Homo sapiens: one gene and its partner. The protein of the gene in region 1 purifies or fractionates together with the protein of each later gene. This does not show direct contact. Each region holds a gene or a part of one and is shown in the gene's direction. Other genes may lie near its edges.

The links. The genes of interacting proteins can lie anywhere in the genome.
Region 2: the proteins of CSE1L (region 1) and TPP2 fractionate together in Homo sapiens (co-fractionation; 2 studies listed by BioGRID). This does not show direct contact.

Annotation. Positions count from the first base shown.
Region 1 is NC_000020.11:49,049,264-49,056,327, forward strand, and holds part of CSE1L (exportin-2), read left to right. Parts: intron 1-7,064. UniProt on the Homo sapiens protein: Export receptor for importin-alpha. Mediates importin-alpha re-export from the nucleus to the cytoplasm after import substrates (cargos) have been released into the nucleoplasm.
Region 2 is NC_000013.11:102,676,961-102,680,497, forward strand, and holds the end of TPP2 (tripeptidyl-peptidase 2), read left to right. Parts: intron 1-1,266; coding exon 1,267-1,356; 3' UTR 1,357-2,998; downstream 2,999-3,537. UniProt on the Homo sapiens protein: Cytosolic tripeptidyl-peptidase that releases N-terminal tripeptides from polypeptides and is a component of the proteolytic cascade acting downstream of the 26S proteasome in the ubiquitin-proteasome pathway.

The DNA of each region.
Region 1 (7,064 bases):
CCTGGGCTGACCTGGGCTCAGTCTATCCTCCTACCTCAGCCTCCCGAGTAGCTAGGACTACAGGCGTGCACCACCACACTCAACTAATTTTTATTTTTTTTTTGTAGAGATGGCACCATGTTGCCCAGGTTGGTCTCAAACTCCTGGACTCAACCAATCTGCTTACCTTGGCCCCCCAAAGAGCTGGGATTACAGGCATGAGCCACCCTACTTGGCCAAAATGAATGTTTTGTTTCTAGTTTGAGTCATTTTTAGATCAGTAACACTTTTTGCATTTATATATTGCTAATATTTCAGAGTGTCAAAGTACCTTTACTTGTGGTTGCATAAGATAATTAGAGCTTGATCTTGTTGATAATTATGAATACCTGTAAAATGTTCTCTAAAAGTCCCTGATTTCTCTTATTTTCTCAAATTAAGGATAAGCTTAGAATTCGGTTTTATAGACTATATCTGCAAGGCGATATAAAAAGGATTTGTTGACAAATAGTTCCTTAAAGAATATTCCCAAAGAATAAACTTTGGAAGGCCAAGGTGGGCGGATCACTTGAGCTCAGGAGTTCCAGACCAGCCTGGGCAACACTGGAACCATGTCTACAGAAACAACACAAAAATTAGCCAGGTGTGGTGGTGTGTGCCTGTAGTCCCAGCTACTTGGGAGGTTGAAGTAGGAGGATGGCTTGAGCCCAGGAGGCAGAGGTTTCAGTGGGCCAGAATTACACCACTGCATTTCTCCAGCCTAGGTAACAGACCCAGACCCTGTCTCAAAAAAGAGTATTAAGATTCTGGGATCTATGTAGTATTTTAACTTTGAGGGATTATAACATGCATATTTATATAACCCCTCACTTTTTTTTAAACTTAAAAATAGTCCTACCCTAGCATCTCAACTTAATCATTTTAGGTTTCATTCTATTATGTGGTTTTATTTATTTATTTTTATTTTATTTTATTTTATTTTATTTTATTTTTGGAGACAGGGTTTCACTCAGTCACCCATACTGGACTGCAGTGGCAAGACCTCAGCTTATTGCAGCCTAGACCTCCCGGGCTCAAGCAATCCTCCTGCCTCAACTTCCCTAGTAGCTAGGACCACAGGAGGGTATCACCAAGCCCAGCTAATTTTTTTTTTTTTTTTTTTTTTTTTTTGAGATGGGAGTTTCACTTTTGTTGCCCAGGCTAGAGCTAGAGTGCAATGGTGCAGTCTTGGCTCATTGAAACCTCTGCCTCCCGGGTTCAAGCAATTCTCCTGTCTCAGCCTCCTGAGTAGCTGGGATTACAGGCGCATGCCACCACGCCCGGCTAATTTTTTTTTTTTTGTATTTTTAGTAGAGACGGGGTTTCATCACATTGGTCAGGCTGGTCTCGAACTCCTGACCTCAGATGATCCGCCTGCTTCGGCCTCCCAAAGTGCTGGGATTACAGACGTAAGCCACCGCGCCCGGCCTGAGCCCAGCTAATTTTTAAAATTTTTTGTAGAGACAGGATCTCACTATTGTTGCCAAGTCTGGTCTTGAACGGTCCTTGGGGTCAAGTGATCGTCCCATCTCCACCTCCCAAAGTGCTGGGATTACAGAAGTGAGCCACCTTGCTCAGCCTGTTGTGGTTTTAGAATCTAGAAGGTTGTGTCCACCTCTTTCTGTTTGACACAGTCAACCAACCAAAATAAAGATGAAGAATAATATTTTTGATGGAAACATCAAAGGTATCTAGCTTTTTAAAATAGTACAACAAATATATAACGGGTGCTCATCACTATTGTAAGGCTCTAGGGAGAGAGCAGTGAACAAAGCACAAAGTCCCTACTATCAGTGGAGTTTACAATCTAGTGAAGAGAGAAGCACAGTAAATGACAAAAGAAATTAATATGCCTGATAAAATGTACTTGGAAAATAGTAGAGTAAGGGCATGGAGAGTAACTGAGGTGAATGCTCTTTTAGATAGGATGGTGCAGCAAGGCATCTCTGAAAAAAAGATGACATTTGAAAAGAGTCCTTCCAGGCCGGGCACGGTGGCTCATGCCTGTAATCCCAGCACTTTGGGAGGCTGAGGCGGCAGATCACCTGAGGTCAAGAGTTTGAGATTAGCCTGGCCAACACGGTGAAACCGCATCTTTACTGTATATAAAACTCAGCCGGGCGTGGTGGCACGCACCTGTAGTCCCAGCTACTTGGGAGGTTGAGGCAGGAGAATTGCTTGAACCTGGGAGGCGGGGACTGCGGTGAGCTGAGATCACGCCACTGCACTCCAGCCTGGGTGACAGAGCAAAGACCCCTGTCTCCAAAAAAAACAAGAGTCCTGAATGAGAATGAAGTGGGCAGTGCAAACCTTGTAGCTTTCCGTGTGCAGAGCTCTGCAGGCAGAAGGAATGGTAAGTACAGAACCCTGAAACAAAAGTAAAATCACTGGCATGTTTGAACAGGTAATACAGGATAAATTTTATCTTTTTTCAGAGACAGAGTCTTACTCTGTTGCCCAGATTGGAATGCAATGGCATGATCATAGCTCACTGCAGCCTTAAAATTCTGAGCTTAACCAGTCCTTCTGCCTCAGCCTCCAGAGCAGCTGAGACTACAAGTGCTCGCCACCATGCCTGGCTAATTTTTATTTATTGTAGAGACAGGGTCTCACTATGTTGCCCACGCTGGTCTTGAAATCCTAGCCTCAAGTGATCCTTCCGCCTCGGCCTTCCAAAGCGCTGGGATTACAGGCATGAGCCATTCTGCCAGGCCAGAACAAATCTAAAAATTCACTTTCTTGAAGTACTTTTGAATAAACAAATTTAATTGTGGCAGTTAAGTTGGTCATTTGTTCATCTGACATTCATGCAACTGAGTTCCCACATTATGTTGGGGCTGCTAATGATTGATCTGAAGGGATAGTCTCCAGTCTTGACTGGAAACTCATGTTTTGCTGGGTGACTGACATGTTGTGACTTATCCTTTAGTTCATACAACAAATGCTTACTAAATATGTACTGTGTGCCAGGTAATGCTGAAGGTCCTGAGCATACAGACGAAAGTCCCTGCCCTCAGGAGCTTGCAGTCTAGTGTGTGTATGAGACGACAAAGAAGTTTATTTCAAATGAGGGTAATTGCTAACACAGTAAAACAAGGATGATGTAGATGGTAATCGTAGAAGGCCTTTTTGAAGAGTTGACAGTGGGCTGAGTGCTGAATGGTGTCCATTATCAAATTAGAGGATGAGCATTATTATGGTCAGGGAGAACTCTTGTGGCCAGTTTGTAGAACAGAAGGCTTTTGTGCCTGGAATGTAGCAAGAGCCAGGAGGAGGTAGGAGATGAGGTCAGTAGATACCAGATTGCTTAGACCCTGCTGTGGTAAGGGATTTGGTGGTGGTGGTGGTGGTGGTGGTTGTTTTGGAGATAGGGTCTCACTCCCATTGCCCAGTCTGTAGTGCAGTGGCCTGATCACAACTCACAGCAGTCTCAATTTGCTGGATCTACAGGTGTGTGCCACCACACCTGGCTAATTTTTTGTATATTTAGTAGAGACAGGGTCTTGCTGTGTTAGCCCAGGCTGGTCTGAAGCCGGCTGAAGCAATCCACCTGCCTTGGCCTCCCAAAATGCTGGGCTAACAGGCGGCAGCCACTGCACCTGGCCAGGAGTTTGGGTGTTTAAGACAAGTAATTATGAGGAATCTAAGGAGTTTTAGTTGAGAAATATACAAATGCTAGAGAAACATAATGAAGAAAGTGAAATGCAGATTTATTAAGAAGTGTATTTTTAAAAATCAAGAAAATAAGCCCTGTGTGGTGGCATATGCCTGTAGTCCCAGCTATTCCAGAGGCTGAGGCAGGAGGATTGTTTGAGCTCAGGAGTTAGAATCCAATCTGGACAATACAGTGAGACCCCCTGTCTCTCTTTTTTTTTTTTTTTTTTTTTTTTAAAGACAAAATAGATCTGTAAATCTGCCCCTGCACCCTCCCCACCCAAGTTTCTAACAATCTGCCTTGCATGAATCCCCAAAGGTAGAATAAATTTGCATATGGCAAAGAAAGGCCAATTTCCTTTAACTCAGATACACTGATGTTAATGATTTAACTTGACCACAGCAAACTAACTTTTTTTTTTTTTTTTTTTTTTTTTTTTGAGACTGCGTTTCTCTCTTGTTGCCCAGGCTGGAGTGCAATGGCGCAATCTCGCCTCATTGCAACCTTTGCCTCCCAGGTTCAAGCAATTCTCCTGCCTCAGCCTCCCAAGTAGCTGGGATTACAGGCATGTGCTACCAGGCATGGCTAATTTTTAGTAGAGACGGGGTTTCACCATGTTGGCCAGGCTGGTCTCAAACTCTTGACCTCAGGTGATCTGCCCCTCTCAGCCTCCCAGAGTGCTGGGATTATAGGTGTGAGCCACCACACCTGGCCCAAACTTTCATGATTTCATAACTGATCCACCATTTCAATACAGAAAAAAGGAATAGGAAAATAAATGGATTAAATCATTGCTTTCCAAAGTGTGTTCTATTGAAAAGGAGTTCTATAGCCAAATAATGGGAGAGACTGGGCAATCCTCCCACCTTAGCCTCCCAAGTAGCTAGGACTACAGGGCCACACCACCACGCCCGGCTAATTTTTTGTATTTTTAGTAGAGATGGGGTTTTGCCATGTTGCCCAGGCAGGTCTTGAACTCCTGGGCTCAAGCGATCGTCTGCCTCAGCCTCCCACCAGTGGAGACTCTGGATTAATTGATGTGAACCAGTAACTTTGTGAGTTTAAAGTGCTTTGTATTGTGAATCTCCAAAGTGGGGCAGGATATAATGTGTAGCATTTTCCAAACTTGTGATATAAAAAACCATAAAGGGTATAGCCTCTCAATAGATTGTATGTGTGGTTTAATGGGACTTGATTTTCACACCTATAGAGTGGAACACCTGGATTAGAGGGAGTGATTAGGTAGGTGGTGGGATCTACTCAGTCAGAACATTAGCTTCCTGTGATAAACACATTTTCTAATTAAGGGGAAGGACTGCAGCATGTAGAATACAGATAATTCTCTTTAGAAGGTTGGGGTTTCTGGCTGTTGGGGAGTGCCCTGCATAAGCACAGCATTAGATAATATTTTCTTATTTTCTGGCTCCCCACCGCTCAGTTGTCCTCTGGCTGCCCTCTTTTCACATCAGCCTTTCTATTGTGTTGTGAGTGCTTTCACTCTTGGTCAGCCGTCTGTCATTTCCACCTAAGAGGCAGCCTTGGGTAATAGAAAGAGGGTAGACCTACGGAGTTGGACTGATTTAAATCTGATCTTTATTTATTAACCATATATAGTTAATATATGTCAACCTGAGTGCCCTTCTTTGTGTGTAAAATCATTGTGTGGAATAAATGATATGAAGCCTATGAAAACATCTAGCATCGTGTGCCTGGTTCATACATGTGACACTTCCCCCATTCTGCAAACCATTACCAGCCCAAAGGTCCTCTACTCCACTTTCATTACATTTTTACCCACTTAAGAAAACCTTCATGACTTCCCCATACATTAAATCATGGCACTCTTCAGCCAAGTATGGAGGAACCTATATGATCTGGTCTTGATCTCCTAGCCCACTATTCTCTCTTCCCATCTCTGTTACTTTGCTCTCACAATTCATTTTGGCAGATGCGCCCTCATCCTACTTTGCCTATTCAGATACACATATTTTTCAAGGTTCAGCTCAAGGCTCAGGCTCTGGGAAACTCTTGGATGGCCACATAACCCCGTGACTCCCTTCTTAATTTTCTAACGTTTAAGGTGCTGTCTTTGTGATTCATTTGGCACTTCAGAGGACAGATGTTTCAGAATTTGGGATTTTTTTTGGATGCATGTACTGTGGATTATACAACATCCCCAGTGGGGCTTGGGGTAGCACCCTGTAATCAAACGTATTGATATTTCTTTAGTGAAACAAATTTGCATACTAAGTGAGATAAATCTATGTTGATAGCCTCAGGCAGTTCAGGCTGGTTTTGCTGCCAAGTGAGTTTGCCACAAACTTGTTAAAAAACAAACTTTTAAGTTTTTTTATTTTTGGATTTCATCACTTTAGTAAAGGGTATATAGGCCTGTACTTGGCATTTCAGTTGTGTCTTGTCTTCTGAACTATTACAGAAGCTCCTTCTAGGACAGGAACTTGATTGCATATTGTCATAGGCATTTTAAAAATAAATGGGTCCCGGTATGGTGGGTCATGCCTGTAATCCCAGTGTTTTGGGATGCCGAGGCAGGAAAATTGCTTGAGGTCAGGAGTTCAAGACCAGCCTGCGCAATATGGTGAAACCCCATCTCTACAAAAAATACAAAAATTAGCCAGGCATGGTTGATTGCGCCTGTAGTCCCAGCTACTCAAGAGGCTGAGGTGGGAGGTTGGGGCTTGAGCCCTGGAGGTTGAGGCTGTGGTGAGCTATGATCATGCCCCTGCAGTCCAACCTGGGCCACAGAGCAAGACTCTGTCTGAAAAAATAATAAAATTTTTTAAATTCCTTACTGTAAATGTATAATAGATATGTGATTGTAAGATTAGAAAAGTATGAAGAGAATAAAACTCTCCTTATATCTATCACCGAGATGTTATCACTGTTCTACATTTTGGAGTGTGTTTTTTGTTTTCTTCTATATGTGAAGTTTTTTTTCATAATTTGAATTATGATATCCTTGAACTTTTTCCACTGACCTTTTTTACATTTTACAAAAATTGTGTGTTTAGTTTTTTTCTTCTTTTTCATAGAAGCCTCTGGTTAATTTGGTGCATGATTTCCCTGAAAGGGCTCCACTTTCCCATCTACATGTGGCTATATATCTAAAAGCTGCCTAATGGAATCTAAGCATAAGTGGAGTTTTCTAAAATCGCTTTTTTTTTTTTTGGAGACAAAGTCTCGCTCTTTCTGAGGCTGGAGTGCAGTGGCACAATCTTGGTTCACTGCAGCTTCTGCCTCCAGGTTCAAGCGATTCTCCTGCCTCAGCCACCCAAGTAACTGGGATTACAGGTGCATGCCACCATGCCCGGCTGATTTTGTATTTTTAGTAGAGACGGGATTCACCATGCTGGCCAGGCTGGTCTCAAAC
Region 2 (3,537 bases), on another chromosome or scaffold:
GGTTTATGCCTAAAGGATACGTGAAGGCAGGGGAGTTTGGTGGTGCCAGATTCAGCTAAAGGGCAAGTCCAGGTTAATTATACTTTATATGTAAGGTACCCTTTGGATGTAAAACTGATCAGTAGGTTCCTCTGAAAATGTTTGATAATTAGAGTAAGCTATATTCATATTTACTCTTAGAGCTTTTTGTTTACCTTCACCAGTCAGTCCAAATTGTAAGACATTTTAAATTAGCTCCTCCAGATCTTTGACTAGATTAAGAGAACTCTTTCTGGAGCCAGGTGTTGATATGTCTAATGTGGTTCTCATCATGTGGAATCTGATCCGTGAGCACTTAGGTTTGTAAAGCCAGTGATCCCTGCCGACGTTCACATCAGGGAGTGTTTCTTAACTTGTCTGCCCTCCACTCTGCCCCCCCCGCTGCCTGTTCTCCACACAGCAGCTGGAAAAGATGCCTTTTGACACCTGCTGTTGAATCTCCATCACATTTGGAATAAAATCCAAACTCTCCCCAGTGGTCCATAAGGCCCCTGCCTACCTCTCCAGACTTATTTCATATCACACTTGCCCATACAAACTCTGCTTCTGCCACACCAGCATCTCTGCTTAGCACAAACAGCCACACCTTTTCCTACCAAAGGACCTTAGCACTAACTACTCTGGCTGGATGGAATGTCTTTCCCAGATTTTCGCACAGATTTCTTGTCATTCAAACTCAACTGGAGTATCACCTCCATAGAGATCCTTTCTTAACCATCTAACTCCCCAGTTAGTTTATATTGTGTCAAATATTATTTCTACTGTACACCTGATAAATATCTTATTACTTGTTTATTCATTTATTAATTTGCTTATTATTTGCTTTTCCTGAAAGTGGGAGGTGAATTTGTTCAGTGCTGTTTTCCCAGTGTTTGACATGATAGTTACTCAGAAAAAATGAATGAAAGGAACTTAGGTTGGTAGGAAGGAAAGGAACAAGTAAGTTGGAAGGAAGAAGGGAGGAACACAGGTTAATAGGAAAGAGGGAAAAGGACAGTTGGTAGGGATAATGATGAGAACAATAGGTTGGTTGGTAGGAAAGTTGGTTGATAGTAAGAAAAGTTGGTTGGTGGGAAGGAGGATCAATGGGTGGGTGACGGTTGGTGGAAGGAAGGTTCTATATGCTACTACCTTACTGTTACTATTTAATACAGAATTTATTCTAAATACTGAGCTTAAAAATCTGTCACTTCCTTTATAATAATATATTATTGTATTTTGTTGTAGCTGATGAAGTTACTTGGATGGACCCATTGTGCATCTTTTACTGAAAACTGGCTCCCCATCATGTATCCTCCCGATTATTGCGTATTCTAAAATAGGAAACAAGACTTTAAATTTTAAAAAAGGAAGTTTTATAGTGAATGGGTATAAAAACAAATTTGTGGCATTTTTAGTCTAATGCATGTTTTCATCCACTATCCAGTACTGATTATTAAAATGACATGTATTTATCAGAGAATTCACTGACGTGTGGCTTAATACATGTAAATCTAGACCTCTGACATCATGGTGTTTTCTTAATGCCTCACATTGCTGGCACGGGGATGTGCCCTGCCTGCCAGCACCTAGGACTTCGAGTTGGGTTGCAGCTTATGACATGCATGATAGGTTTTGGAAGGTAACTTTTAACTGCAAACCTATAAAGTACTATTTTTTATTTTATAAATGAACAGGGTTTTAACGTGCTCAACTTTAATTTTTTTCAATTGTATGAAGGCCTTAAAAAAGCTACATTAAGCGTAGCTAAAATTATTTATTGGACTAAAAACTAACAGAACTTCATTTCCAGAATTTTTTTTTTTTTTTTTTTTTTTTGGCAAATGTTTACATTCAATTAAGGGGAAAAAGTAGAACCAGCACAAATGAGTGGCAGTTGCTGGAGCATAACTGCTTCAATAAATCTTCATCTTGGGGTAATTACAGGCAAGTCATTTTCACATCCTCTTGAGGTTCAGAGCATCAGAATGAACTCTATGAATACATGTGTAAGTGCCAGACAGCTGAATCTTTATCAGGTATTGTAAAGATACACATATGATATGTTTATTAAAATTGAAATAATGTAAAACACATGAATAAATTTGCAAAACCAAGATCACAGTACACCATATGCACTCTGGTACCTTAATTTTTTTTTATAAATAATAAAAGTGAATATTGAAGCTTCTTAAAGTTGGTCTTAATTTTTCATAAATAAAATTTGGGGTTATAACAGAAATAATACATTAAATACATAGACAAAAAAAGTTAAACATAAGATAATCTATTTTACAGTGTTTCTTATAGGCTTACAATTATTTGAATGTATTTCCAGTTCTTGTATGATTAACTTTTGTGCATATCTAACTTTTTATTATTTTTATCTTTGGCTACTGCACGTGCATCTCTCGTCATTCCTCCACCAAATAAACAGACAAAAGTAGTATTGAAAAGTTTACAGTCCCTTATCTAATGGCAAATTGTGTGTATGTATGATTTTTTTATCTTGTTCTCTTAAGATTTACTGCTGCTTAAAATTACTACCAGTAATCCTTAGTCACTCCCAACTGTTTCTGCTGTATCTCATGAAGTGTTAGAGCGTTTATGAGAAACATAAATACATGTATAAGCATATTGGTCACACCTTCTGGGCTAGCTAGGGTCCAAAGTCTATCCATGAAAGCTACATGCATGTTCTCTCTCACACACTCATGGACTTTCACCTGCACACACATACAGGTCCCCATTTGTATAGGTTTAGTCCAGTAAGAGAATGGAGAAGCTCAGTAAAGGTAGGATGACTTCCCAAGGTTATACGGCTGATCAACTGTTGGAAATTAATTACAGACCTTGCTTTACAACCCAGGTTTTGCTATTTCAGGTAAGTACTACCTACAGCAGGAATCAGTAACGTTTGGCCCTTTAACCCAAACTGGACTGCTGCCTGTTTTTGTAAATAAAGTTTTATTGGAACAGAGCCATGCCTATTCATTTGTGACTCCTGTAACTGGAGGCAGTTATACAAAGCTGCCATGTTAGCTCCTGTTTCCTGTCTGGTTCATTCTGCATTTCTGTGGTGACAAGTGGACCCAAGTAAGCTCTAGAAGATGTTCTCAGTAAAATCATTACTGTTTCTATGTGATTACATTAAAAATAATACAAACAGTAGGATGGTACTTCAAAAAGTCAAGCAGTTTTCCTGTTTCTGGTCACAGTAGCCAATGTTTGCACACCCACTGAAAACAATTGAAAAAACTAGGTAAAAATAACTTTTTAAAGAACCATTAGAGACAGTACAGGGTATGTGCTCAATACTGGTTCTGTGGCCCCTTTCCAATAATAAGAGGCAGTTCTCAATTGTTACTGGGAGGAGTTTTGCCATCTCATGGGATTTCTTTCCTTCCTCATGTTAGCATGCTTTCTGGGAGAACTTCTCTTTACCGCAGAAGAGCCCCACCTGCTTCTCTTCTTAGGCACCACAAATCTCAAACCCTTTCTCCCTCCACCCCCAGCTCT